Linked DNA regions of Homo sapiens: region 1 is linked to region 2. Evidence: fine-mapped expression QTL. A gene starts in region 2. The other region holds a variant in brackets. All regions are shown on one strand. Distances are between the middles of the regions. Region 1 has its middle 34 kb from the start of ATP8B2. Region 2 holds the start of ATP8B2 (ATPase phospholipid transporting 8B2).

The links. PIP is the estimated chance that this variant, and not a neighbour inherited with it, causes the effect. A credible set is the group of variants that fine-mapping cannot tell apart.
Region 1: its variant is the best candidate, but not a certain one, in a credible set for the expression of ATP8B2 in monocytes after R848 (Quach 2016, PIP 0.51).

Annotation. Positions count from the first base shown.
Region 1 is chr1:154,354,104-154,365,336 of GRCh38, forward strand. No RefSeq gene overlaps it. Among named protein-coding and RNA genes, the nearest start is that of ATP8B2, 34 kb to the left of the region's middle. RefSeq lists a silencer at 7,957-8,157. The variant C/G (reference allele first, on the strand shown) is at 3,181.
Region 2 is chr1:154,321,148-154,329,147 of GRCh38, forward strand. It overlaps ATP8B2 (ATPase phospholipid transporting 8B2), which reads left to right and starts at 4,378. Exons shown (of 28, transcript NM_001370597.1): 1 at 4,378-4,555; 2 at 6,958-7,025. The coding sequence starts at 6,995. AQP10 (aquaporin 10) reads left to right here. Exons shown (of 6, transcript NM_080429.3): 1 at 1-113; 2 at 786-912; 3 at 1,835-1,972; 4 at 2,094-2,212; 5 at 2,442-2,659; 6 at 3,135-4,178. The coding sequence starts at 9. The coding sequence ends at 3,333. RefSeq lists enhancers at 3,339-3,418, 5,539-5,718 and silencers at 3,859-3,938, 4,369-4,598, 4,649-4,798, 7,358-7,817.

The DNA of each region.
Region 1 (11,233 bases), 35 kb after region 2:
CTCCACTAGGACGACCCACCACCACCTGTTATTCAACATACCCCACACTGAACATTGTTTTTCCCAACACCTGTTGCTCCTCCCGCATCCTCTATTTCAGTGAGCAGCACGCGATCTCACCAGTCACCAAAGCCAGACACACATGTCCTGGAGAAAACCCTACAACCTCTGCTCTGGGGCCACCACACTGTAAATCATATATTTCATCTTCTTTGATGTGGAGCATGAAATGATTAAGCTGCAATGTCCTGAGCCACTGTTTCCCAGTGATTGTGACCCAGGCAGGGTCACGACAGCCATATTTCTGTCCCCAAAGCGGGGCCATCTAGGTTGGGACTCAAAACACAAAGAAATTCTGCCACAAAGGTTCAATGTCACTTTCCTTGGCCCCAAAAGAGAAACTGGAGAGACCAGAGTGCTCAGATTAGGTAGGCAGCTGCAGCCTCCCACTGTAGCCACCCTGCAGAGCATGAGGGAGGGACTCACTGATAAAGCACCAGGACTACCCACTGCAGTCTCTACTTCAGAGGAAGCAAGCCATTGATGGAGATGTACTAAACACTGGGCTCTGCGGCTGAAGGAAGGAGCTGAGTTCTCCTGCTTATCTCTGCTCCAGTGTCCTATCTTGAAGGACTGTGTCCTGACCCCAGTGAGAAACATGACCTGTCTGACCCTCCCAACCCTTCCTGGAAACTTTCCAGTTCTCAGTGAGTTGCTGGGAGCTGCCCTGCTGGACACCCGCCTGGGGAGGGTGTAGACTTATCTTGCCGGGCTGAGAGAGGGAAGTCTTTCCCAATACTAGTCTATTAAAACACACACTGGGCTGGGCGCAGTGGCTCACGCCTGTAATCCCAGCACTTTGGGAGGCCAAGGCGGGTGGATCATCTGAGGTCAGGAGTTCGAGACCAGCCTGACTAAAATGGCTTCACCCTGTCTATACGAAAAATACAACAAATTAGCTGGGCATGGGGGCAGACGCCTGTAATCCCAGCTACTCAGGAGGCTGAGGCAGGAGAATTACTTGAACCTGGGAGGCGGAGGTTGCATTGAGCTAAGATCAGGCCGTTGCACTCTAGCCTGGGCAACAAGAGCGAAACTCCATCTAAAAAAACCAAAACACACACACACACACACACACACACACACACACACACACACACACACACACAGTGGCCCGGCATGGTGGCTCATGCCTGTAACCCCAGCACTTTGGGAGGTCAAGGTGGGCAGATCGCCTGAGGCCAGGAGTTCGAGACCAGTCTGGCCAACATGGTGAAACCCTGTCTCTACTAAAAATACAAAAATTAGCTGGGTGTCCTGGCGTGCCCCTGTAATCTCGGCTACTCAGGAGGCTGAGGCAGGAGAATGGCTTGAACCCAGGAGGCAGAGGTTGCAGTGAGCAGAGATCGCGCCACTATACTCCAGCCTGGGCGACAGAGTAAGTCTCCTTCTAAAAAAATAAAATAACAAAACAAAACACACACACACTTTCCCTCTCTCTCTCTCTCCAAAACGTGATGGAGTGTCTCCTCTTAAGAAAGGAGTGTTTTTGGACACAGAAAGAGGGAGTTCCTCCAGCCTAGCACAGCCTGAGTTTGGCCTGGGCTGGAAATTCTGCAGAAATCTTCCATCCTGCCACTGGGAATAGGACAGGGAGGCCTAAGCCGTGTTTTCGGCCCCCCGGGGCCCAGCAGGGACATGTGTGGGTTCCAGGACTGGGGCAAGGAGGAGAGGATGCCCAGGTTTACTCAAGGGCAGGCAGGAGGTGAGGAGGGGGTGACAGGTGGAAGGAAAGGACCATGTCCCACTCTCCACTCCTTCCTCATGGGCCACTCTTCATTTCACTCGCAGCCCCGCAGTGCACAGCTACAAGCTGGGGGTTCATCTCTTCCTGGTCCCCTACTACCTTGGGTGCAGCTCTTCTGCCAGAACCTTCTGGGCGCCTGCTGCTGTGCCTGGGCTCCCCACGCAGGGAGGGACACCCCTGGGGCGGAAGGCAGGCAGCTGCATAGCTGAGTGGCTGCTTCTACAACACCTGGAGAACCGCTGGGGCTAGAAGCAAACATGCAGCAGTTTGGGCCTGGGGGTTGATTCTCCTCTGCAGGGGAAGGGAAGATTTCTAGAAACGCAGAAAGTCTATTCTGTGGAGGTACAAAGGATACCAGAAGACTATAGGAGACATCCTTAGTACCCCCAGATGCTGGCTGTTCTCTAGGTCTACCCTCACACAAAGAAGTGGGTGAGACAACCTTGGACCCCGGCTTTGGATCCAGCATAGTAGAACCGGCCAGCTTGCCCTGTCATGTTTTCTGCAATGTCTGGGACTGCGGTTCTTCATACTTTTGGCTCAGGTTCACCTCTGAAAATCCAGTGAAGCCATGTGATGAAATGCTTATGTGCTTTTACAAAGTGCATGCAGTTTAATAGGCTCCTCAGCTGTTCACCTAGGGATGCTTCAGGCAGCCCTGCCCTGAATGTTCATGGGACTCAGGGCAAGTAGCAAATGGAGGCCCACGTACCACGTGTCTGAGTACAGAGGAGTTATGAGATCAAAGTAGGCTGTGTCTTCCTACCTTGACAGATATATCTTCCTAACAACTTGGAATGTCAGTTTAAATTTAGAACCTGCCCCTTTGGCCTCCCAGCCCCCAGCCTGCCCCTCCTCTTCCCACTTCCCTCCCTGTCCCATTCTACACTGTGAGGGTCCTTGCTTCTGCAGCACACCCCAGCACACAAGTCCAAGTTCCACCTGCACCCCTGCAAACAGCTGTTCCTGGCCACTTACTGGAGCCAGGTGTGCACACTGGCAGATGGGTCTGTTTGCCAGAGAATACCTGAAGCAGAAGGCTGCAGAGTCCTTGGAAATGAACTCAACACCATTTGGATAGAAAAATGCCAGAGTCTAGAATAGTGCTTCAGGTGAATAACCAGCTTTTAAAGTTTCCAATCTGTTAAATTTCTTTCCTTTTTTTTTTTGAGTTGGAGTCTCTGTCACCCAGGCTGGAGTGTAGTGGCACTATCTTGGCTCACTGCAACCTCTGCCTCCTGGATTCAAGCAATTCTCCTGCCTTAGCCTCCTAGGTAGCTGGGATTACAGATGTGTGCCACTACACCAGGCTAATTTTTGTATTTTTAGTAGAGATGGGTTTTTGCCATGTTTGCCAGGCTGGTTTCGAACTC[C/G]TGACCTCAAGTGAGCTGCCCACCTCAGCCTCCCAAAGTGCTGGGATTACAGGTGTGAGCCACCGTGCCCAGCCTTTCTTTCCCTTCTTGAAAAGTAAATAAATAAATAAAATTTCCAATCTGTGATAGGCTGGCTGATACTTTTATAAAATACAATGAAAACAAATTCCTGGAAAATGGAAAATGATCAGGAGCTTGGATGTTGCAGCAAAGTAAAATTGTGATAAAAGTTTCTAAATGCTTGGTGTTTCATTTCATTTCATTTCTTTTTTTCTTTTCTTTTTTTTTTTTTTTTTTGAGACGGAGTCTCCCTCTTGCACCCAGGCTGGAGTGCAGTGGCACGATCTCGGCTCACTGCAACCTCCACCTCCTGGGTTCAAGTGATTCTCCTACCTCAGCCTCCCGAGTAGCTGGGACTACAGGTGCCCACCACCACACCCGGGTAATTTTTTGTATTTTTAGTAGAGATGGGGTTTCACTGTGTTAGTCAGGATGGTCTCGATCTCCTGATTTTGTGATCCGCCCGCCTCGGCCTCCCAAAGTGCTGTGATTACAGGTGTGAGCCACTGCACCTGGCCTAATTTTTGTATTTTTAATAGAGACGGGGTTTTGCCATGTTGGCCAGGCTGGTCTCGAACTCCTGATCTCATGTGATCCACCTGCCTCAGCCTCCCAGAGTGCTGGGATTACAGGTGTGAGCCACTGCACCCTGCTGCTTTTCTTTTCTTTCTTTTTTTTTGAGATGGAGTTTCACTCTTGTTACCCAGGCTGGAGAGCAATGGTGCGATCTCTGCTCACTGCAACCTCTGCCTCCCGGGTTCAAATGATTCTCCTGCCTCAGCCTCCTGAATAGCTGGGATTACAAGCATGGGCCACCGTGGCCGGCTAAGTTTTTTGTATTTTTAGTAGAGACGAGATTTCTCCATGTTGGTCAGGCTGGTCTTGAACTCCCAACCTCAGGTGATCTGCATGCCTCAGCCTCCCAAAGTTCTGGCATTACAGGAGTGAGCCACTGCGCCCGGTGCCCTGCTGCTTTTCATTTCTTTCTTTCTTTTTTTTTTTTTTGAGATGGAGTTTTGCTCTTGTTGCCCAGGCTGGAGTGCAATGGCATTATCTCAGCTCACCGCAACCTCCGCCTCCCGGGTTCAAGAAATTCTCCAGCCTCAGCCTCCCGAGTAGCTGCGATTACAGGCATGTGCCACCATGCCTGGCTAATTTTGCATTTTTAATAGAGACAGGGTTTCTACTGGTCAGTCTGGTCTCAAACTCCCGACCTCAGGCGATCCGCCAGCCTCGGCCTCCCAAAGTGCTGGGATTACAGGCGTAAGCCACAGCGCCTCGCCTCTGCTGCTTTTCATTTCTATACTTGGCTCATTGTGGTCCAGTAACAAGCCATCTGTTGAATGGCAGCAGTTCAAGGGCCACAATTTGAGTGTGCTGGTCTAGAAGGAGGCAGTGTGGGCTCCAGCTGGGCAAGTCCAGTCGGCCCCTTTGACTCATCATTTTATGGGAGGGGTATGGCCAGAAGAGGGCTCATGGTGGTGGTGGTGAGGGGAGCTCCCTAGATCAGCCTGCATCAGTAGCCTTTCTTGTCTGAGTTTGGGTGGTATTGTCAGAGGCATTTGAACCAGAGCAACTCCATCTTGAATAGGGTCTGGGTAACATAAGGCTGAGACCTACTGGGCTGCATTTCCAGGAGATCAGACATTCTTAGTTATAGGATGAGCTAGGAGGTCAGCACAAGATACAGGTCACAAAGACCTTGCTGATAAAATAGGATGCAGTAAAGAAGCCAGCCAAAAGCCACCAAAACCAAGATGGTGACACAAGTGATCTCCGGTTGTCCTCACTGCTCATTATGTGCTAATTATTAGCATGCTAAAAGACATTCCCACCTGCGCCATGACAGTTTACAAATGCCATGGCAGTGTCTGGAAGTTACCCTATATGGTAAAAAAAGGGGAGGAACACTCCCCTCAGTTCCAGGAATTGCCCACCCTTTCCTGGAAAACTCATGAATAATCCACCCCCTGTTTAGCACATAACCAAGAAGTAACTATAAGTATAATCAATTGTTACTTGATTAGTCTGTTCTCATGTTGCTAATAAAGACATACCCAGGACTGGGTAATTTATAAAGGAAAGAGGTTTAATTGACCCACAGTTCAGCATGGCTGGGGAGGCCTCAGGAAACTTGCAATCATTGCAGATGGGAAAGCAAACATGTCCTTCTTCACATGGTGGCAGCCAGGGCAAGAATGAGAGCCCAGTGAAGGGGGAAGCCCCTTATAAAACCATCAGATCTTGTGAGTACTTACTATCATGAGAATAGAATAGGGGAAACGGCCTCCATGATCAATTACCTCCCACCAGGTCCCTCCCATAACAAGTGGAGATTATGGGAACTACAAGATGAGATTTGGGTGGGGACACAGCCAAACCATATTATCAGTTGAGCAGCCCATGCCACTGCTCTACCTATGGAATAGCCATTCTTTTATTCTTTTACTTTCTTTTTTTTTTTTTGAAACAGAGTCTCACTCTGTCACCCAGGCTGGAGTGCAGTGGTGTCATCTCACTGCAACCCTTTACTGCAACCTCTGGGTTCAAGCGATTCTCGTGCGTCAGCCTCCCAAGTAAATGGGATTACAGGAATGAACCATTATACCTGGGTAATTTTTGTATTTTTACTAGAGTCAGGGTTTCGCCATGTTGCCCAGGCTGGTCTCAAGCTCCTGAGCTCGAATGATCAGCCTGCCTCAGCCTCCCAAAGTGCTGGGATAACAGGCATGAGCCATGGTGCCTGGCCTATTCCTTTACTTTCTTAATAAACTTGCTTTCACTTTACTCTATTGATTTGCCTCAAAATCTTTCTTTCTCGAGATCTAAGAACCCTCTGCTGGGGTCCGGATTGGGACCCCTTTCTGGTAATAGCATAAGGGAGGGATGTAGTGGGATGTAGACCCTTGAACTGCGTGGAATTCTAGCATGATTTATCAAGAAGTCTGAAGTATCATCTCATATCATGGTGCTAAGTCTCCACTGGGCCAGTGGCCAATGACAGGCAAGGGAATCAAAGGCAGGGTATGTATTCATAAATGAGGAAACCTATTATATGACAGAAGAGCTTAATTCTTATTCTTCTAATTTAAAAAGTTGTTTTTTTTTCAGGATGGGGTCTTGCTATGTTGCCCAGTCTGTTCTCCAACTCCTGGCCTCAAGCAATCCTCCCACCTCATCCTCCTAAGTAGGTGGGATTACAGGTTTGTACTACATGCTGGGCTGAAAACTTTTTGATACCAAAATTTTGATTTGGTTTTTAATATTTGATGTATAGGTACAGAAGAATGCTACAAGCATCAAAGTTCAAGTAAGCTAGGTGTGTCAAAATAAATCTTTAGATAAATAAGGCTGTGCTATGAAATAAATTGTATCCCCCCCAATTCATATGTTGAAATCATAACCCCTATGTGACTGTATTTGTTTTTGTTTGTTTATTTTGTTTTGATTTTGAGACAGTATCACTCTATCACCCAGGCTGGAGTATAGTGGCATAGTCTCAGCTGACTGCAATCTCTGCTTCTGGGGCTCAAACCATCCTCCTGCATCCGCCTCCTGAGTAGCTGGAACTACAGGCATGCACCACCATGCCTAGATAATTTTTGTAGAGACAGGGTCTTGCCATGTTGTCCAGTCTTGTCTCAAATTCCTGAACTCAAGTGATCTGCCTGCTTTGGCCTCCCAAAGTGTTGGGATTACAGGTATGAGCCACTGTGCCTGGCCAGTATTTTGTTACAGCAGCTGGAGTTGACTAATACAGACTGATTGGATAGCTTTAGTTCATCCTAGAGGACAGGTCTTGAGCTGGGCATGGTGGTGCGCATCTGTGGTCCCAGCTACTTGAGAGGTTGAGGCAGGAGAATTGCTTGAACCTGGGAGGCAGAGGTTGCAGTGAGCTGAGGTCGCGCCACTGCACTCCAGCCTGGGCGACATGAGCAAAACAACTCCATCTCAAAAAAAGACAGAAAAAAAGAAAAAAAAGAGAAGAAGAAGAAGAAAAAAGACAGCTTTGCTTTTTACCTTCTTCTAATTTTATTACCATGTGGAAAGTATTGTTTGCATAATATTAGTTTATCCAAGACTTTATTTTTGCAAAGTTTAATTAATCTGAGCTTTCTAAATTTCCTTTGCTGGCTTTACTGGTCAGATAAGCTACTTTACTTCCACTAAATATTTCAGAAGGAGAGTATAAACAACTGTACTCACCTAAATGGAATGATAACTACTAATAAATGTTTTTATAAAAAGACATTCTGGCCAGTCATGGTGGCTCATCCCTGTAATCCCAGCATTTTGGGAGCCTGAGGCGGGAGGATCACTTGAACCCAGGAGTTCAAGACCAGCCTGGACAACGTGGTGAGACCCCGTCTCTGGAAAAAATACAAAGATTAGCCTCCAGTCCCAGCTACTGGAGGGTGCAGGGCCGGGGGTGGGGGCTGAGTTGGGAGGATCGCTTGAACCCAGGAGGTCAAGGTTGCAGTGATTGCGCCGCTGCACTTCAGCCTGGTGACAGAGCAAGACCCTGTCTCAAAAAATGAAAAATAAAAAGACCTTCTGATGTTTTCAGACACTGTGACCCATCAATCTGTGAAAGGAAGATAAATCTCAGGACCCCAAAATCACTAAGCCAAGGGAAAAGTCAAGCTGGGAATTGCATCAGGCAGAACTGCCTCCCATTTTATTGCTAAATGAGATAGCTACAAAGATAAAAGAGCTACATACCTCCCTCACAATTTGTCCACAAGGAAATTCCTTGCGGGCCTCAAAATCTTTATCCTAAAATAGTTCTGTTGAATTTCACCCTGGCAATGTAAACCGTTAGCTTATTTTCACAGGTACAGGACAGAAAGTCATCCCTCTGCTGACTTGAGACAAATGCTTATCTTATTGCTTCCTCTGCCCTATTGTTAATGTAAAAATGCAGATTCACTAAGCCAGAATAAATTGTGTATTCAGTGAAAGGCTGATCAAGGACTGAAAAGAATACAACCTTTTTTGTCTTATCTACCTATGACCTGGAAGCGCTCCCCCACTTCGATTTGTCCCTCTTCACCAGACAGAACCAATGTACATCTTGCACATATTGATTGATGTCTCGTGGCTCCCTAAAATGTGTAAAAGGCTATACCCCGACCACCTTGGGACCACCTTGTCCTCAGGACCTCTGGAGGCTGTGTCATGGGTGTGTCCTTAACCTTGGCAAAATAAACTTTCTTTTTTTTTTTTTTTTTTTTGAGACAGAGTCTTGCTCTGTCGCCCAGGCTGGAGTGCAGTGGCGCAATCTCAGCTCACTGCAACCTCCACCTCCTGGGTTCACGCCATTCTCCTGCCTCAGCCTCCCAAGTAGCTGGGACTACAGGCGCCCACCACCACACCCAGCTTATCTTTTGTATTTTTAGTAGAGACGGGGTTTCACCATGTTAGCCAAGGTGGTCTCGATCTCCTGACCTCATGATCCACCCGCCTTGGCCTCCCAAAGTGCTGGGATTACAGGCGTGAGCCACCGCACCCGGCCAGCAAAATAAACGTCCTAAATTGGTTGAGGCCTGTCTCAGATACTTTGGGTTTACAAATCTAAATCATTCTGCATGTCATCAACTGATAGTTTTCACTGTCCTCTCACACAAGCCTCAGGGCCCTTGCTGTATGCTACAGACCCCATTAGGGTCTTCTGGAAGAAACATCCTAGAAAGATAACCTTAGGAACGTAGAGGAAAGAATGAAACAAAGGACCGGAGACTCAGAATTCCTAGGATCATTTCAGTTCCGCAGTAGGTGACCTCATGACGTCAGGCTACTGACGCAAAACCACTAGAATGAAAATTAATTCCACGAGACTCAGACTGTTGAGCACATTTACTTGAACTGTATTCACCATTATTACTTGGCTACCAGTATGTAAAAGACTTTTGATGAGAATGGTGGTATTAACAAATGTGATTTTTTTGACATTGTATGATGAATTATCTCAATAATCTTTATAACTTAGTGACCCAGTATTTTCCAAATAACCAATGCATGATGTTACAAAATTTTGTATAGTAAAAAAAAAAAAAACAACGTGCAAGATAGAACAATGGATTTTAATGAACAAAAAAATATGAAAACTTAGCTGGGTGTGGTGGCTCACACCTGTAATCCCAGCAGTTTGGGAGGCCAAGGTGGGTGGATCATGAGGTCAGGAGTTTGAGACCAGCCTGGCCAATATGGTGAAACCGTCTCTACTAAGAAAAATTTAAAGATTAGCTGGGTGTGGTGACGTGCACCTGTAATCCCAGCTACTCAGGAGGCTGAAGCAGGAGAATCACTTGAACCCAGGAGGCGGAGGTTGCAGTGAGCCAAGATCACGCCACTGGACTCCAGCCTGGGTGACAGAGGAGACTCCGTCTCAAAAAAAAAAAAAAAAAAAGAAAACTTTATGAATTCGAAATTTGGTTTCAGATTCCATATTGCAACTAGTCCTTAAGGAAATACCACTTGTTGGCCAGGTGCAGGAGCTCATGCCTGTAATCCTAGCACTTTGGGAGTCCGAGGTGGGTGGATTGCTTGAGGCCAAGAGTTCGAGACCAGAGTGGGCAACAAAGTGAGAGCACTGTTGCTAAAAAAAATAAAACAATTAGGCCAGGGGAGGTGGCTTATGCCTGTAATCCTAGTACTATGAAAGGCCAAGGCAGGCAGATCTCTTGAGCCTAGGAGTTTGAGGCCAGCCTGGGCAACACGACAAAAGCCGGTCTCATACAAAAATTAGCTGGGTGTAGTGGTGCACACCAGTATTCCCAGTTATTAATACTTGGGGGGTGCTGAGGCAGGAGGATTGCTTGAGCCTAGGAGGCAGAGTTTGCAGTGAGCCAAGATCAGCCATTGCACTTCAGCCTGGGCAAAAGAGACCCTGTCTCGAAAAAAAAAAAATTAGTTGGGTGTGGTGGTGTATACCTGGAGTCTTTGCTACTTGGAGGCTAAGGCAGGCAGAACACGTGAGTCCAGGAGATGGAGGCTACAGCGAACCATGATCATACAACTGCACTCCAGCCTGGAAGATAGAGTGAGACCTTTGTTAAAAATAAATAAAATGAAATAAACTACCACTTGTTGAGTTTTACATAAAAAAAAATCCACAATTATCTGAAAAGGCTATTAAAATTCTCCATTTTCCAACTACATATCTATGTAGGGCCAAACTTTCTTCGTATAATTCAACTAAAACATCATATAGGAACAGATTGAATATAGAAGCCAAAATTAGATTCATATTGTCTTTTATAAGTCAGACATTAAAGTAAAAGCAAAAACTGTAAAACAATGTCTCTCTTATTTCTCTTTATTTTAAACAAAAATTTGGCGGGGCACAGTGGCTCATGCCTGTAATCCCAGCATTTTGAGAGGCCGAGGGAGGCAGATCATCTGAGGCTGGGAGTTCAAGAGCAGCCTGGCCAACATGGCAAAACCCTGTCTCTACTAAAAAACTAGCCAGGCATGGTGGCATGCACCTGTAATTCCAGCTACTCGGGAGGCTGAGGCAGCTGAGGCAGGAGAATTGTTTGAACCCAGGAGTCAGAGGTTGCAGTGAGCCGAGATCACACCACGGCACTCCAGCCTGGGTGACAGAGTGAGACTCTGTCTCAAAAAAAGAAAAAAACACCAAAAACGACAAAATTTAAAAATATACATTTGTAGTGGTTTAATTGTTATTATTTCAGATTTCATAAAAATATTAATGAATTAATATTTTAAATTCTCAATTTTAATATCTTTTTGTTTTGTTTTGATTTTTGAGACAGAATCTCACTCTGTCGCCCAGGTTGGAGTGCAGTGGTGCAATCTCAGCTCATTGCAACCTCCGTTTCCCAGATTCAAGTGATTCTCTTGACTCAGCCCCCCAAGTAGTTGTGACTACAGGTGTGTACCACCACACCCAGCCAATTTTTGTACTTTTAGTGGAGATAGGGTTTCACCATGTTGGCCAGGCTAGTCTTGAACCCCCGGCCTCAAGTGA
Region 2 (8,000 bases):
TTTCCACCATGGTCTTCACTCAGGCCCCGGCTGAAATCATGGGCCACCTCCGGATACGCAGCCTCCTGGCCCGGCAGTGCCTGGCAGAGTTTCTGGGTGTGTTTGTACTCATGGTAGGTAGGATCACTGCGGGAAGGAAAGAAGGGGGTTGGGCAAAAGTTCCTGGCTCCTTCTGTTGTCCTTATCTCTTTCTCTTGGTGTCCCCCTTCCTCTCAACTCCCTATCACTTTTCGTTTTTATCCTCTCGTCTCTCCTAATCTCCTTTCCTCTCCTACTTCATCATTTTTATTCTTGTCATTTTTATTCTTTCTTTAATAACAAGTGTATCATAGTTCTTGAAACATAATTTTTCTCTCTTCAGTTTCCCATTTTTATGAAAGACCATTTTCATGGTAAGACCAATGTGCTTTATTATACTTGGCCTGATGATTGTATAAAGTGCAGCAAGAATAATTATTTTTCACATAGGCTTTTAAAATTGGCTTTGATGGAACTCTTCCATAGAAAGAATCTTAGATAAGACTTTTTAAAGCTGAGCCCTGCCATGGGTTTGTACCCTCAAATGCCTATGAGTTGGGTAAATTCTTTTCTTTTTTCCCACATTCTTTCCCTTTCTTCTTCCTCCACTTTCCCCATTTCTTTTCCCTTCCCTCCTTCTGCTTTTCTCCTTCCCTTGCTTGTCTTCTGTGCTCATTCATCTCCTTGGCTGCTCCCCTGGCCTTCCCAACCTTTCTCCCTGTTGGTCTCCTGGGCTCCCTGTTCCTCATCTCTCCTCTTCTCAGCAGCTCCTCACCCAAGGAGCTGTGGCCCAGGCTGTCACCAGTGGAGAAACCAAAGGCAACTTCTTCACCATGTTTCTGGCTGGCTCTCTGGCCGTTACGATAGCCATCTACGTGGGTGGTAACGTCTCAGGTGAGGAGGGTGGGGTCTGGTCATCAGAGCACGTGGGATGTGCATGCCAGTTTGTCTGTCTGGTGATGGTGGAAACGCAAATCCTTCTGTGACTCGTGGACATTATCCCCTTGAACAGTGTCCCAGACTGAAATAAGCCTTTGGCCCCACCAGCCCCTCCTCTTTCTGTATCTCTCCATCCTGCTTCCTCACACTAATGCTTGGCTCACCTAGACAGAAATCAATGGCAGGGCACGAAGGGCAGCTGCTATCCTCTTGTATCCCCCACCTGAAGTCCTCTGGGGGCTCATCTCCACTCAGGACCTCTCCTGTTTGTACCCCAGATACACACTGCATCGGTGTGCTTGGGTGGAGCCTTGAGACATAGTGTGTTGCTGTGGAAAAAGCAGACAGACCTAGGTTCCAACTTTGGATTCACAGTGTCTTCTTCTTTTTTTTTTTTTTTTTTCTTTTTTTTTGAGATGGAGTTTCACTCTGTTGCCCAGGCTGGAGAGCAGTGGTGTGATGTCTGTTCACTGCAACCTCTGCCCCTGGGTTCACGCGATTCTCCTGCCTCAGCATCCCGAATAGCTGATTTTACAGGCACCTGCTACCACGCCTGGCTAATATTTGTGTTTTTAGTGGAAACGGGGTTTCACCATGTTGGCCAGGCTGGTCTGGAATTCCTGACCTCAAGTGATCCACTGCCTCGGCCTCCCAAAGTGCTGGGATTACAGGCGTGAGCCACTGTGCCTGGCCCACAGTGTGACTTTGCTAAGTCACTTAACATCTGTAACATCTGGAGCCTCAATTTCCTAAGCTGTGTGATGAGAATTACACTATCTGCCTTAAGAGCTATAGGAAGGAGCAGTAGTGTTGTCTGGTGACAATGCCTGGCAGTGACACTTAATAGATGCTCTTTTTCTTTCCTTGATACTTGAAGGGGCCCACCTGAATCCAGCCTTCTCCCTGGCCATGTGCATCGTTGGACGCCTCCCCTGGGTCAAGCTCCCCATTTACATCTTGGTGCAGTTGCTGTCTGCTTTCTGTGCTTCGGGAGCCACCTATGTTCTCTACCATGGTGACAGAGGGAACAGAGGGAGCTGTGCCTTGAGAGCACCTGTGGGTGGGCAGGGGTGCCTCAGAATGGTTTTGGATGAATGAGCAAAGAGGGAAATCCTGGGTGTTCCCTTCCTCCACAGATGCCCTACAGAACTATACAGGTGGGAACCTGACAGTGACTGGCCCCAAGGAGACAGCCTCCATTTTTGCCACCTATCCTGCCCCCTATCTGTCCCTGAACAATGGCTTCCTGGATCAGGTAAGTGTGAGGGGGAGACCTGGGGACACTACTTTGGTCCTGTTCCTCGGCACCCCAGCCTATTGTTCAGTCTCTGGGTGGAGTGTGGGTTGGGTCTATCTTGGCACTCCCCACCATCCCCAACTGCCTGTGTTGCACAAAGCCAGATGACATGGAATATTTGGATGAGAGAGGGCAGATGGAGCACCTGGCAGCTGACAGGGAACCCTCTGCCTCTGTTGACTCCAAGGTTCTGGGCACTGGGATGCTGATTGTGGGGCTCTTGGCCATCCTGGACAGACGGAACAAGGGAGTCCCTGCGGGTCTGGAGCCTGTGGTGGTGGGGATGCTGATCCTGGCCCTCGGGTTATCCATGGGTGCCAACTGCGGGATTCCACTCAACCCTGCCCGGGACCTGGGCCCACGTCTCTTCACCTACGTGGCTGGCTGGGGTCCTGAAGTCTTCAGGTGGGAGACAGACTCTCCTGGTGCTGGCCTCCACTCACCTTCCTCTGCTAAGGGCTCTGTCCCTGGGTCCACAGCACTCTGCCTTTAAAATAGCTCTCTTGGCTTCTTAGGACAGTGTTCTTTCTCCAAGTCATATTCTCCCCCTTTCTCCCTTGCTTCCCTCCCAACTTTTCACTGAAACAGTAAGATTTAGAGGTTGTGTTCTTAGGCATGCCACATTACTTCCATGCACATTAGTGACTTCATCAGCAAAATTAATATATTCAGATAATTCCCTAAGGCAAGAGGCTGGACCAAGCTCTCCTGGGGTTCCCTCTTCTAAATACTATGCTTTGGTGACAAGGCAATCCTCTTCCTGGTGTCTACCACCCTGGGAACAACTTTAGGGCACTCTCTTGTTACTGCCCCCCGTCCTTGGAGAGGGGAAGGCTAAGGGAGTCACTCCTGATACCTTCCCACTGTCCTTCTTTTGCAGTGCTGGTAATGGCTGGTGGTGGGTGCCTGTGGTGGCCCCTCTGGTGGGGGCCACCGTTGGCACAGCCACTTACCAGCTGTTGGTGGCTCTGCACCACCCTGAGGGCCCAGAGCCAGCTCAGGATCTGGTGTCTGCTCAACACAAAGCCTCAGAGTTGGAAACTCCTGCCTCAGCTCAGATGCTGGAGTGTAAGCTATGATTAGGACAACCCTCACTTCACTCATGGACCCTGGAGCCAGCCACTGACCCCGCCTGGGAACAACAGTCATTCTTCCTCTTTGTTAATGTGCCAGAACCTGGGAGGCTTCTCTGTTTATCTGTTTGGCATCCCTTCCTCCTAAACTAAGAAGGATCCTGGACAGGGAGAAGTGGAGGAGGATAAGGTACCAGGACTCAGGCTTCTCATCCCCTCCTCCCGCAAAGCGGTTTTCTGACCCTCAGGGCCTCTCGGAATGTAGTTGCTCGAGGTAACCGCTAGAGGGTGCGCACCTGGATGCTGGATGGGGACGGCTGCGGGCATCTGCAGGGTGGAGGGGGCCACCATCCAGTGTAGGGCACAACCCTGGGGACTGCCCTCCATAGCCTGTCCCGACTGCCGACTCCTAGCTCTCATCGCCTCGGCGCCTCCCACCTTCACCCTCTCGGGGATGCCTCCCCAAGAGGGTAGTTAGGGGTGGGGAAGCCGCCTCCACCCAGGGGGCGTGGTGGGGGCGGAGGGAAGGAGGGCGGCGGGGCACAGAGACAGAGAGCAAGGCTGTGAAACTGAGGCACCGTTCCTAGACATCTCGGTGCTGTGTCGTTCATTCAAGGAGAGTTGAGATACAGTGAAATGAGCCAGGGCGAGGAGGGAGGGTGAAGGAACGGAGGGCGGGCGGCTCCGAGGAGCGAGAGTCGGGCTGAGGGCAACCTGGCGCCAGGGAAAATTCTGGTTATTCACCACTTCTACAGCTCTCCTGCCGCTCCCTGCAGAGGATGCTCGTTTTGCAGAGAAGGCAGTGTTCCTCTATTCCCTTCTTCCGAATTAAAAATACCCCCTCAGAGCGATCTAGCCTCCCGAATTGTTTTTTCTTTTAAGATGCGGATGGACGTACGTGTGGGGGCATCCCAGCCCAGCCACGCCGAGGCTCGGAAGGGCTAAGACCCTCCCACTGCCCCGCACAAAGATGGCTGCTCCCTCCTCCCCGCTCCTTCTCCCCTCCCCAAAACCCCCTCCCGCCCCCCGGCCCCCGCCGCCGGCTCCGTCACTTCCGCCCCGCCGTGGCCGAAACTGACACAAAGTAGCGGGCCGAGGCCCCGGGGGAGCGGGGCCGCAGCTGGGGGGGCGGGAGCCCGTGGGGAGCCGAGCCGAGCGCCCCCCGCCCCAGCCCCCGGCATGGGCAGTACGGGGCCGCCGGGGCGGGCGCCGAGCGCTGAGCGCTGAGGTGAGGCGAGGCGAGGCGAAGCGGGGGCGCCCGGGAGCGCGGGGCCAGGAGGGCAGAGGGAGATGCGGCCGCAGCCGCGGGGCTGGAGGGGCCGGGGAGCGGGTGTAGACTGGGGAGCACCGGGGGCCAAGATTTGGGAGCTGCGGCCAGACGGGGCGGGGATGGCGGCCGACTGGAGACGAGGGGCTGTCGGGTTCCCGGGGACGGGGCAGAGCGGGGGTCTGCGTACAGGATGGGAGGATGGGGTGCCGAAGGGGCGCGTGGAGAGCAGGAGAGCGGCGCGAGTGCCAAGGAGAAGCTCGTGCAGCCTTGGCCAGGGGAGACCCGCCCAGAGAGTTGTTGGGCGAGAGGAGTAACCGGGACCCGAGGGTTTGGTGCCTGGAGAAGGGAGTTTGGGCTGGTAGGCTTTGTCTCAGTAAGGTGGAGGTCTATGCCTGAGGAAAACTGAGGGTGTCAGGAAGGGGCAGTAGCTCTGGGAGATGATAGCTGTGCCGGGAGCCCTGAGTTCTGTCCTTGGTGAGGGAAGGTGGCCCGAGCTCGTGTTGGTGGCCAGTGAGCTGGAGGTCTCGAGTTCCATTTCCTCCTGTTTCCCTGACCTGCCATCCTCCTCTGAAAGAAGTGGCCAGCCTTTGGGGCTCTTGCTTGTAAGGGAGCAGGGACCGGACCTATAGGAGGAGCTGTTTTCCTCCATGGAGCATTGCCTGCTTGCCGGGGCTGGCTATTTTTATCCCAAATGTGGCCGAGAGGGGGCTGGGGCTGGGTGACGGGGCAGGGCAACGTGGCTGATGGGCCTGACCTGCTCAGAAAACCCAGGCTGTGTGAGACTAAGAAGGAAAAGTGAGAGGGGATCCCAGTTCCCAGGTCTCTCCTCTCTTCCCCTTGGAATGATGGCCCCCCCAGAGGGGATGAGGTCTGGGGCCAAGCCTGCTTCCAGTCTCCCCAGGGTCTCAGAGGTAGAACAACTTTCCTGGTCCATATCCAGACTCCTGACTCCTGATGGCGTGTGCAGCTCCTACATTAACTCTTTCATGGGACTCAAACTCAGATGTTTAGGCTGATAGTGTTTCTTGATCCCTTCCTCCCCAAGGGCGGGGCTGCCTGTAGAACTTGTGATGCCCACTCTTGCATCCTTTAACCTCTCCCTGTGCTCCCCACCCTCCCGTGACTCATACTCAGACTGGGTGGAGACCCTGGCTGGGGGCCCTGGAGGAGGGCTTGGCATCTCTAAAATATGGATGAGGTTTTTCTTCCTGAGCCAGGCACCCTGGACTGCCATAGTTGGAGAAGGTCAGGGATGAAAAGGACTTCTGGCTTTCAGGATTGCCTGACTTGGTGTAAGGGCGGGATCTGAGCTAGCGAAGGGAGAACTGGTGTGGGTGACTGGGTTGTGGCCAGAATCTGTAATTATAGAGCTTAGCCAGACAGGCAATTAGTATCTCTTGGGGCTGACAGGTTGGTGGGGTGTGCCTGGTAGGCTAAAGGCAGAGGGAACCAAAGAGGATGAGGAGGTGAAAGGCCTTCCACCCAGACAAGGAAAGAGGAGGTGACTGACTGGCAGTTTCCTTTGGGCCAGGCTGGGGAGTAAGGATGAGGCTCTGCCTTGTAAGGCCAGGCCTTGAACCTTTTAGGAGAAAGGACATGGGAAGGCGGAAGCAGGCAGAGGCTTGTCTCACTGGTGCTCCCTAAGCCTGCACCCTGTGCCATACTGACTGGACTAGGCTTGGGGTGGGAGGGAGGGAGGGGCAAACTCCCCACCAGGGTTGGGAAGACCCCTCTGCCAGCCCAGAAGGGTGGCTGACCCAGGCTGAGGGGAAGCTGTTTAGGGACTGTCTGTGCAGAAAGTGAGGGCCATGCCTCTAATGTGAGCTCCCCTGGAGGAGGTGATAATGGAAGCCCTAGTAATGGGGGGTGGGGATGGCAGGGAACTTATAAGCCTTTCGAGAAGGGTGGAGCCTGCCCACCCTGTTTCCTGATGCCCTGCCAGGTGTTTCCTGGCTCATGTTCCCTCCACCCCACCCTTTGGGGAAACTGCTTTCTAGTAAGCACAAGCACTACTCATTGCCGCCAGAACACATGAGAGCCTCCATTGTCCCTGGGATGGATACCTTGAGAGCTGTTCCCCTTTTTTCAATATCTGGCCTCTTCTCCTTTCCCTACAGGCATGGGCTTCTGTAAAGTCTCAGCCCCCCATGTCACCCAAGGCAGGGGCATGATGGGAGGTGGTGGGGAAGTCCCCTCTTTCCCAGGAACCCATCATGGCAGTAAGAGGAGAGACTGGGAGAAGGAGGCTGGGGGAGGGGCAGGGTCAGAGCTGGAGAAGAGGGTCTTCAAAAGAGGTCTCATGAGGGGAGGGAAGGGTTATCCTCAGCTTCCTGACCTCATTCGTCTGTCACTTCTTGCAGGGTCTCCCATGGGATTGCTGGGATCTTGCTGGGTGAGATGGCAGTGTGTGCAAAAAAGCGCCCCCCAGGTAAGACAGGCAAGGAGGGGAGATCCCGGGAACCATCAAGAGTGGGTGTTGTTATGGCTCAGGGAGCAAAAGGAAAAGGGACAACTGGTATGGGTCTGAGGGAGGGTAGCTTACAGCAGCCCCTACCCAGCTTGGGGGCAGCCTAGGAAACCGAATTCTTCCGCTTGATCCCAAAGCTGGGTTATCTGCCAGGACAGCGCAGAGCACCAGCCCCACGCCCCGAAACACCTGCAGTCTTATCTTCGGGCACCTGCAGCTCCTGCTTTCTGGCCTAGGGAGCTGTGTTCTCATCTCTGCTTGGTCCTCTCACCCCTTCCCTGCTCCCCTCGTTTTTCCATCTACCGGTTCTCCTGGTTTTTCCGCGGGCGGGGGTGTGTGTGTGTGAAAGCGGTTGCCCCCGACAACGCCGGCAGTCCGCTCACCCGCATTGGCCCGGCCCGGGGGTGGGAGGGGAGGCGGGGCTCGCGCGCGAGCTTTCGCCTACGCGGCGCGCTGGCAGGCTGCGGCTCCTGCAGTCGGGGAGCGGGCGGGGGCGGAACCCTGGGCGTGCTCGGCGTGTCCGGGGCCACTCAGCGCACGCTGGCATCCGCCGGGGGGCATGGGGGGCGGCGGCGGCGGCGCAGCTGAGCTCGCGGTGTCCCCGAGCGCCGGCGGCCGGGAGGATGGCCTGGGCTGCGGGTGGGGCGCGCGCCCGACGGCTGGGGCTCCCCTCTGAGCGGCTGCGGCTCCTGCACCTCCCCGGGGAGCCGCCCCGTCGATGCCACTAAGGCCAAGGACATATAGACGGTCTGCCCTCCCCCACTCAAACCGGGATCATGACGGTCCCCAAGGAGATGCCCGAGAAGTGGGCCCGGGCCCAGGCGCCTCCCTCTTGGAGCCGAAAGAAGCCCTCTTGGGGGACAGGTAACGGGAGGCAGCGCCTGGCAGCTCTCCCGCACCCATTATTTCCCCCCTCCAATCCCTACATTCACTTGT